Homo sapiens: one gene and its partner. The protein of the gene in region 2 purifies or fractionates together with the protein of the main gene of each other region. This does not show direct contact. Each region holds a gene or a part of one and is shown on either strand. Other genes may lie near its edges.

The links. Proteins that work in one complex are often made in the same cells at the same time.
Region 1: the proteins of CKMT1A (region 2) and EPHX1 fractionate together in Homo sapiens (co-fractionation; one large-scale study listed by BioGRID). This does not show direct contact.

What each region holds. Positions count from the first base shown.
Region 1 is NC_000001.11:225,830,325-225,834,222, reverse strand, and holds part of EPHX1 (epoxide hydrolase 1), read right to left. Parts: intron 2,445-3,898; coding exon 2,264-2,444; intron 1-2,263. UniProt on the Homo sapiens protein: Biotransformation enzyme that catalyzes the hydrolysis of arene and aliphatic epoxides to less reactive and more water soluble dihydrodiols by the trans addition of water.
Region 2 is NC_000015.10:43,695,838-43,700,905, reverse strand, and holds the end of CKMT1A (creatine kinase U-type, mitochondrial isoform 1 precursor), read right to left. Parts: coding exon 4,997-5,068; exon of another isoform or gene 4,996-4,996; intron 4,868-4,995; coding exon 4,782-4,867; exon of another isoform or gene 4,778-4,781; intron 4,667-4,777; coding exon 4,543-4,666; intron 2,893-4,542; coding exon 2,758-2,892; intron 2,266-2,757; coding exon 2,140-2,265; intron 1,934-2,139; coding exon 1,817-1,933; 3' UTR 1,684-1,816; downstream 1-1,683. UniProt on the Homo sapiens protein: Reversibly catalyzes the transfer of phosphate between ATP and various phosphogens (e.g. creatine phosphate).

The sequences.
Region 1 (3,898 bases), on a different chromosome or scaffold from region 2:
ATGTTGGCCAGGATGGTCTCGATCTCTTGACCTTGGGATCCACCCGCCTCGGCCTCCCACAGTGCTAGGATTACAGGTGTGAGCCACCGCACCCGGCTTTTTTTTTTTTTCTTTTTTTTTTTTTTGAGACAGAGTCTTGCCCTGTCACCCAGGCTGGAGTGCAGTGGCGCAATCTGGGCTCACTGCAAGCTCCGCCTTCCGGGTTCACGCTATTCTTCTGCCTCAGCCTCCCAAGTAGCTGGGACCACAGGCGCCTGCCACCACGCCCGGCTAATTTTTTGTATTTTTAGTAGAGACGGGGTTTCACCAAGTTAGACCAGGATGGTCTCGATCTCCTGACCTTGTGATCTGCCCGCCTTGACCTCCCAAAGTGCTGGGATTACAGGCGTGAGCCACGGCGCCCAGCCTGTTTTTTTTTTTTTTTTTTAAAGACAGAGTCTCATTCTGTCGCCCAGGCTGGAGTGCAGTGGTGTGATCTCAGCTCACCACAAGCTCCATCTCCTGGGTTCACGCCATTCTCCTGCCTCATCCTCCCGAGTAGCTGGGACTACAGGCACCCGCCACCACACCTGGCTAATTTTTTGTATTTTTATTAGAGACAGGATTTCACCGTGTTAGCTACGATGGTCTCAACCTCCTGACCTCGTGATCCACCTGCCTCAGCCTCCCAAAGTGCTGGGATTACAGGCGTGCGCCACCGTGCCCAGCCTCTCTCTCTTTTTTTAAGAGATGGGGTCTTGATCTGTCACCCAGTGCAGTGGTGTCCTTGTAGCTCACTGCAGCCTTGAATTCCTGGGCTCAAGCAATCCTCCTGCCTCAGCCTCCTGAGTAGCTGGGACTACAGGTGCATGCCACCACACCCAGTTAACACTATAATTTCAATTTCCTTTTTTTAGGAACTTTAGTTTATCTGACTGACCAACATGTCTTTCATACACTTTAAGTAATTCCTAGAATTTTAACAAATTAAAATCTTCACTGTTCCTTGAAAAGGCCAAATTATCTTAAAACATTAAAAATAAGATTCCTAACATGTACAATTTCTTCAATATAAAAAATTAACAAGCTGGGCACAGTGGTGCTCGCCTATAGTACCAGCTATTCAGGAGGTCTGAGGCGAGAGGATTGCTTGAGCCCAGGAGTTCGAGGCTGTGGTGAGCCATGATCACGCCTGTGAATAGCCGCTGCACTCCAGCCTGAGCAACACAGCAAGACCTTGTCTCTGAAAAAGATTAATTGTATGGCAACCCACAGAGTGGGAGAAAACATTTGCAAATATAAGAGATTTTATTCAGAATATATAGAGAACTCCTAAACCCTAATAAAACACCCAAAAAATGGACAAAAGACATGAACAGACATTTCTTCGGAGAAATTACAAAGAATCCAATAAGTACCGCATAAAAAATGCTCAACATCAGTAATCATTAGGAAAATGCAACTCAAAACCACAATGTGATACCATTTCATACCCATTAGGATGACCATTACCGAAAAAAAGAAAGGAAAAAAATATTGGCAAGGATTTGGAGAATCGGGATTCTGAGGCATTGTTGGGTGGGAAAGTAAAATGGTGCAGCTGCTGCGGAACGCAGTATGGCGGTTCCTCAGAAAATTAAACGCAGAATTACCGTATGATCCAACAAGTCCACTTCTGAGTATAGATCCAAAAGAACTGAGAGCAGAGTCTTTTCTTTCTTTGAGATGGAGCCCAGGCTGGAGTGCAGTGGCGCGATCTTGGCTCACTGCAACCTCCGCCTCCTGGCTTCAAGCAATTCTCTGCTTCAGCCTCCAGAGTAGCTGGGATTACAGCTGCCTGCCAACACACCTGGCTATTTTTTGTATTTCTAGTAGAGATGGGATTTCACCATCTTGGCCAGGCTGCTTGAACTCTTGACCTCGTGATCTACCCACCTCAGCCTCCCAAAGTGCTGGGATTACAGTTCTGAGCCACCCCACTTGGCCTGGGTCTAAATCTCATCTCCATCCTTCCTCTCAAAGATTGCCACATCATTGGACTGGATGGTGCATTTCTTTGGTTTTTAAATTGCATGTATGTGTTCCTGCCTAGCTCTAAAGATGGACAGATTTGTTGTGACTGCAATATTTTTGCATTTAGTAAGGTTACAACGTATAAGTACATCTCAGTCACCTATAATTGGGTTCTGAATCTCTCCAACTTTATCTGACTGTAAGTCACATTGTGGAAGAAGGCTGTTCTCATGACATACATCCCTCTCTGGCTGGCGTTTTGCAAACATACCTTCAATCTTAGTCTTGAAGTGAGGGTATCTGTTGAGAATCTCCACCTGCTTCTTCCAGTCAAATTCATTCCGCCAGTAGGAGATGACTTTCTTCAGGTAGTTGGAGTTGAAGCCATAGTGGAAGCAGCTGTCCTCCAAAGGTGGGGTGAAACGGAACTTATCGATCCTCTGGTGTAAGTCCTGGAGCAAAATTCAGGACCCCAAGTTGAGAGGGATGGGAAGGACAGAGCACAAGAGCAAAGTCTGTTTCCAGAAAACACAGCAAACCCTGCAGCCACAAGATACTGCCCTCTGGGAGTGGCAAGGCAGTTTCCCACATCACTGGCTACTCCCAAAGCGGATGTGTTCTTCACTTCTTCCTTCTTCACTGTAGACTTCGCATTTCTTTTTTCTTTTTTCTTTTTTTTTTTTTGAGATAGGGTCTCACTCTGTTGCCCAGGCTGGAGGGCAGTGGCGTGATCTCGGCCCACTGCAACCCCCACCTCCCAGGTTCAAGCCAGTCATGCCTCAGCTCCCAGAGTAGCTGGGATTACAGGTGTGAGCCACCATGTCCGGCTAATTTTTGCATTTTTAGTAGAGACGGGGTTTTGCCATGTTGGCCAGGCTGGTCTTGAACTCCTGGCTTCAAGTGATCTGTCTGCCTTGGCCTCCCAAAGTGGTGGGATTACAGGTGTAAGCCACTGCGCCCAGCTCATCTTTTACTCTTTAAGTGTATACACGATACTCATCTTTAATTTACCCAGGCGTCTCTACAGCGGGAGTCGGCAAACTTTTTCTGTAAAGGGCCAGATAGTAAATATTCTAGGCTTTGCAGGCTGCAGTGACTCCACTGTCTTCATAGTGTGAAAGCAGCCACAGCCAATGCACAGATGAATGGGGGTGGCTGTGTTCCAATAAAACTTTATTTATGGACAGCCATAGCCAATGCACAGATGAATGGGGGTGGCTGTGTTCCAATAAAAATTTATGGACACTGAAATCTGACTGCTATATAATTTTCACGTCACAAACTATTATTCTTCTTTTGATTTTTTTCCCCCTAACTATTTAAAGAGGTAAACACTATTCTTGGCATGGGCGCTGTGCTAAAACAGGTAGCAGGCTACATTTGGTCTATGGGCCTGGTTTCCTGACCCCTGATATACAACATTGAATGATACATTATAACTGAGTTGGGATAAAAATTACAGGCCAGGCCCAGCACGGTGGTTCACGCCTGTAATCCCAGTGCTTTGGGAGGCCAAGGCAGGTGGATCACTTGAAGTCAGGAGTTCGAGACCAGCCTGGCCAACATGGCGAAACCCCATCTCTACTAAAAATACAAAAATTAGCCAGGCATGGTGACAGGTGCCTGTAATGCCAGCTACTTGGGAGGCTGAGGCAGGAGAATCGCTTGAACCCAGGAGGCGGAGGTTGCAGTGAGCCAAGATCGCACCACTGCACCCCAGCCTGGTGACAGAGCAAGACCCTGTCTCCAAAAACTAAAAAATTTACAGACCAGGAGAGAGGGTGCAAGTCTCATTGGCATGTATTAGGCTAAAAGGCCAGCCCCAGAGGGAGGAAGTTCATGTCAGCTTAGAGAGCCTCTCAAGCATCACCATTCCCAGGCTTCTTCCCAAGTGTTTCAGTTACCC
Region 2 (5,068 bases):
CACCTATCACTTCCCTGTCCATTAATTCTCCATAACTTTCCTCCTTCCCCTCTTCTCCCACCCCCCACCCCAGCTCCGCATTGTGGTCTCCAGTTTCCTACGGCAGAGTGGTCGGCATGTGAGCCACCTGGACTTCGTTCATCTGACAGCGCTGGGTTATACTCTCTGTGGACTGCGGCCAGAGGAGCTCCAGCACATCAGCAGTTGGGAGTTTAGGTCATTTGTGAAGGGGCTGAGGGTGGTCGTGTTCAGGTAAAGGTGGACTTGCTGGGGAAAGGAGGATCATGAAGTTATAGTCCCATGGAGGAAGGGAACTCATTTGAAGCCATCTCTTCCTTTGTCTCATGACCACAGTCCCTTTCACTGAAGCCGAATTCTTCTTCCTTCCTTCCCACTGTTCTACAGCCAAGCAGCTCTCTTCCTGGGCACCCTGCATCTGCAGTGCTCTGAGGAACAACTGGAGTTTCTGGCCCACCTCTTTGTACTGCCTGGTGGGTTTGGCCCAATCAGTAACTGGGGGCCTGAGATCTTCACTGAAATTGGCACCATAGCAGGTGGGGAGCTGGGCCACTGCTGGTGCAAGTTGGTTTGGTTTCTATACCATGGGTGGACTGGATGGAAGACTGCCCTGCAATTCTTCAGGTGTGGGCCTGAGAGGGTGTTTAAATAAGGGGCTAGAGACATATTGGGGAAGGTCTATGATAGGGCACTTTGGGAGTAGTTAGAGAAGGTCTATAGGTTTGAAGAGAGGGAAGGTCAGTCTAAGACAATGTTTGGATGCCACTTGCTTCAACAGCTGGGATCCCAGACCTGGCTCTTTCAGCACTGCTGCGGGGACAGATCCAGGGCGTTACTCCTCTTGCCATTTCTGTCATCCCTCCTCCTAAATTTGCTGTAAGTATTAATGGACTGGGGTGACCACAGGAGAGCCAGGGCCCAATGGGGACTACATGCATGCACTGATTCCTACCCCTGCCCTCAGGTGGTGTTTAGTCCCATCCAACTATCTAGTCTCGCCAGTGCTCAGGCTGTGGCTGTCACTCCTGAGCAAATGGCCTTTCTGAGTCCTGAGCAGCGACGAGCAGTTGCATGGGCCCAACATGAGGGAAAGGAGAGCCCAGAACAGCAAGGTGAGTTCCCAGCTGCACAGCTTGATCCTCCATCTCCTGACCCAGAATCAAACCCCTAATTTGGTGCTGTCTGGCTCTTAGAGTGCACCCAGGGAGATCCCTGGAGTGAAGGAGTCTACAGGCAGAGCGCTAATTTCCAAGTATCAATGCTCCTGGAGAGCTGAGTTGTGATATTACTCCCATTCCCTGTCTATTATAGGTCGAAGTACAGCCTGGGGCCTCCAGGACTGGTCACGACCTTCCTGGTCCCTGGTATTGACTATCAGCTTCCTTGGCCACCTGCTATGAGCCTGTCTCTACAGTAGAAGGAGATTGTGGGGAGAGAAATCTTAAGTCATAATGAATAAAGTGCAAACAGAAGTGCATCCTGATTATTTTCAGAAGCTGATGAGGAATATGGGTAAAATGTTAATGCTTTCCACCCACCTGAGAATCAGTGTTCCTGGGTTGCCATATCTGGAGTCTCTTTCCATCATAAATAATCCCACTGCCTCTTTTCATTTCCTGAAGGCTGCTCCCTCCTCACCCCACCATTAGAAGTAACACAGACAGCTGCAGCATAGCAAGGAGTCTTTACTAGGATGGAGGCAGGGGATGCGAGGGCAGGTCCAGAGCAAGTAGAATGGGCCATCATTAGAATGAGCAGAACTCCTTGGAATCTTGAGTCATCAGCTGGCGATGGGGAGTTAATGCTTGGTGTGGATGACAGGTGTGGGGATGCGGATATCCTGGCCTCTCTCCAGACGCCGTTCACAATCAATCAAATAGTTTACTCCATCGATGACCAGTTGCACCAGCTCCACCTGAAGGACACTAATCTTTGATCTCTGCTTCCTACAGTCTGAGTTTTTCTTTATCACTGACTGACTTGCCTGCTCATTTCCAATTGCCTCCCCACTCAACCTGAATTTCATTTCAGATTATGTTACATCCCGGAGGCTCACTCACTGCCATATTTCAGCCCCCACAGACCTATACCTCTCCTCATCCTAATCCCTTAGGATCTCACCTCTGATTTGCCTAGTCGGTCCAAATTAGAAATATCAAAGACACCGCCTGTGGCAGCAGTGTCCACTCCTCCAGTACCACGCTTTTGGAGTCTTAGGTTCTCCAGGATCTTTGGGAAGCGGCTATCCTAGAGAGGAGATAGGGATTGGGAGCAGGGTCAATAGAGGCAGAGACTAGTCCTACCTGAAAGAGCCCTGAACCTGCTCAGAGCTCTGTCTCCTGAACTTTTTTTTTTCCTTTTTTCTTTTTTTTTTTTTTTAGACAGGGTCTCTCTCTGTCACCCAGGCTGGAGTGATCACAGCTCACTGAAGCCTCGACTTCCCAGGCTTAAGTGATCCTCTCACCTCAGCCTCCACTACACCCAGCTAACTTTTGTATTTGTAGTAGAGATGGGGTTTCACCAGGTTGCCCAGGCTGGTCTTGAACTCCTGGGCTCAAATGATCTGCCTGCCTTGGCCTCCCAAGTGTTGGGATTAGAGGCATGAGCCACTGTGCCTGGCCTGTCCTCTGACCCTTTAGCCACAACATGTTTGGCTCCTCTCCAAAGGGTCCACTCCCTCCCCATCCACAACCCACCCTTCCTTACTCACACCCCTCTGTAACCCCACAACTCCTTTACTTTGCTTAGCAGGGGCAGTTTGATGTGCACTCCTGCCCGAAGTCCAGTGCCCAGGTTAGATGGACAGGTCAAGATGTATCCCAAACGCTCATTCCACATGAACTCCCAGCCACGTTCTTGGATAAGTCTCTCCACCTGAGTCCACAAAGTTTTTATTAATGAAAAATCAGGGATATTTCATTAACCCTGGACCCTCCCTTAGCTAGACCCACAAGAACACTAGAAATTTGTCTAGAATAGAAACTTGGCTGTGAATGAATGACATTGGTCTTTTTTTAAATGAAAAAGGTTTGTTATTGTTTTCATGCATGCATGATGCAAAATTATGATGTGCATAATAATGAGATTGTGAAAAAATATCTTATGTGGAAGAAGAAAACTCGAAGGCGTGGTGTATTAAGGATGATCTAGGGAAATGAACAGAGGTGGTAAACTGAACTGAGAGAGGACTGATTATTCAATGAGGTCTGCATGCATCGATTATCTTTGCTTTGCTAATGAGCCTAGAGCTTGGAAGGGTCCTTTCAGACAGAAGATGAAGGTGTAAGCTTTGCCAGGAAGAGGTGAGATAACGTTCTATTAGCTGTGAACGGAGCACCTGTGTGAATGCAGAGAAAGATGAAAACAGAGCAGGAAAGCCAGATTCATAGGAATAGGGGACAGGGGGAAGGCATTTTGCTTCCATTAACCATGTAGTCATGAAGATGACTATTAGAGTTCAAGAGACAAGGGATCTAGCAGAGTGATGATCACAAAGACCACTATCCAACATGAGTAAAGGGATCCTGTTTGTAGTTCAGAAGGAACCATGCCACCAGGGATATCTTATGTGCTGAACATGGGGGGAAACTCTTCCATCCAGAATAATATTGCAGCTAACACTTTAACACTTATTAAGCACTTACTGTGGACCAAGTACTTTACCTGTATTTCACTTAATCCCCACAACAACCTAAAATGTAGAAAATCTCATTATCCCAATTTTACAGATGAGGAAACTGAGGCATATAATTTAAAGGTACTTCCCTACCCACTCATAGTCAGAATATGTTATCTATTACTTGCCAAAAATAGTAGAAACTTCTCAGAATCTAAAAGAGGAGCTCTTTTTCTTTGCAAACCTAAAATAGAACTGTATGTTTGAGAACATACAGTAAGAATTGAATTGAGTTTATGGGGATTTCTAATGTAGACTTGAATACGGAGACCCAATCCATGTAGGATTGATGATTCAGTTCAACCTCTCATCTAGAGCCACATATTCTAGAACTCGAACCATTCTATCCTCCACCTTCCCCAGTCTCCCTCTGAACTCTCAACTTAAAGCCTAGACCCGATACTTTAACAAGAATGATAGAATCCAGAGTCAAGGCCTACCTTGTCTCAGAACTGGGTGGTTATATTAGAGTCATGAACACAGCAACCTCTCCCCGCCAACATCAATCTAAGCTCGAATGTTTTCCTTATCTGCACACCTCACCATCCCACTGCACACATCCCAGGCACTGACGTGCCATCTCAGTTATTCCTTCTTTGCATTACCTGCCTTCTTCACTTTCTAAGGTTCCTGACACTCTTTTCCTAATCTTAGTGTGACCACATGTCCTGGTTTTCCCAGTATGGTCCCAGCTGGTTTATACCTTTAGTCCTAGAGTGAGTCCTAGGTAGTCCTTTTTACCATCAGACATGTCTTGGGTTGGTTGATAAATTACATAATCTATTTATGCTACTCTTTGGTTTTCCTTATGTCCTCCCACCTAGCTCCCCTACACAATCTTCTCTAACCTCTTTGAGGCCTCGGCAGAATCTTTCAAACACTCTCTTCATGTTACCACCCTTCTCCATGGAGATCACCCGTGTATGATCCTCCTCATTCACCCAGATCAGGAAGCTCTTCTCATTGTTGTGCCTGAGGGCCGGAGAGGGACAGTGATCAAGAGGCAAGGCAAGAATTGGGAGAGATAGAGGGAAAAAAAGCATTTATGAGGGCATGAAGACAAAAGAGGTAATGAGCAGCTTCATACCAAATTCCACGAGCATCTGGCCAGTCTCGAGCCATTCCTGCTGCAGTCAGCAACGGGGACACAGGCTTATCAAACAGAAAGTGGTCCTGGGAAGAGTAACGGGACTTGGGTTAAGAATCTTCATGGTGGCCCCTGGGCCTTTCAGAGCCCATGTCTCATCTGGCCCAGCCTTCCCCATCTGCTCCCACCAACCAGCACCCTCTTAAGGCCCTCACATCAATAAGCTGCTGCTGTTCAGCCTCTGTCATCTCACTGAGCCTATAGTAACGTCCAGCCAGGTCACCCTT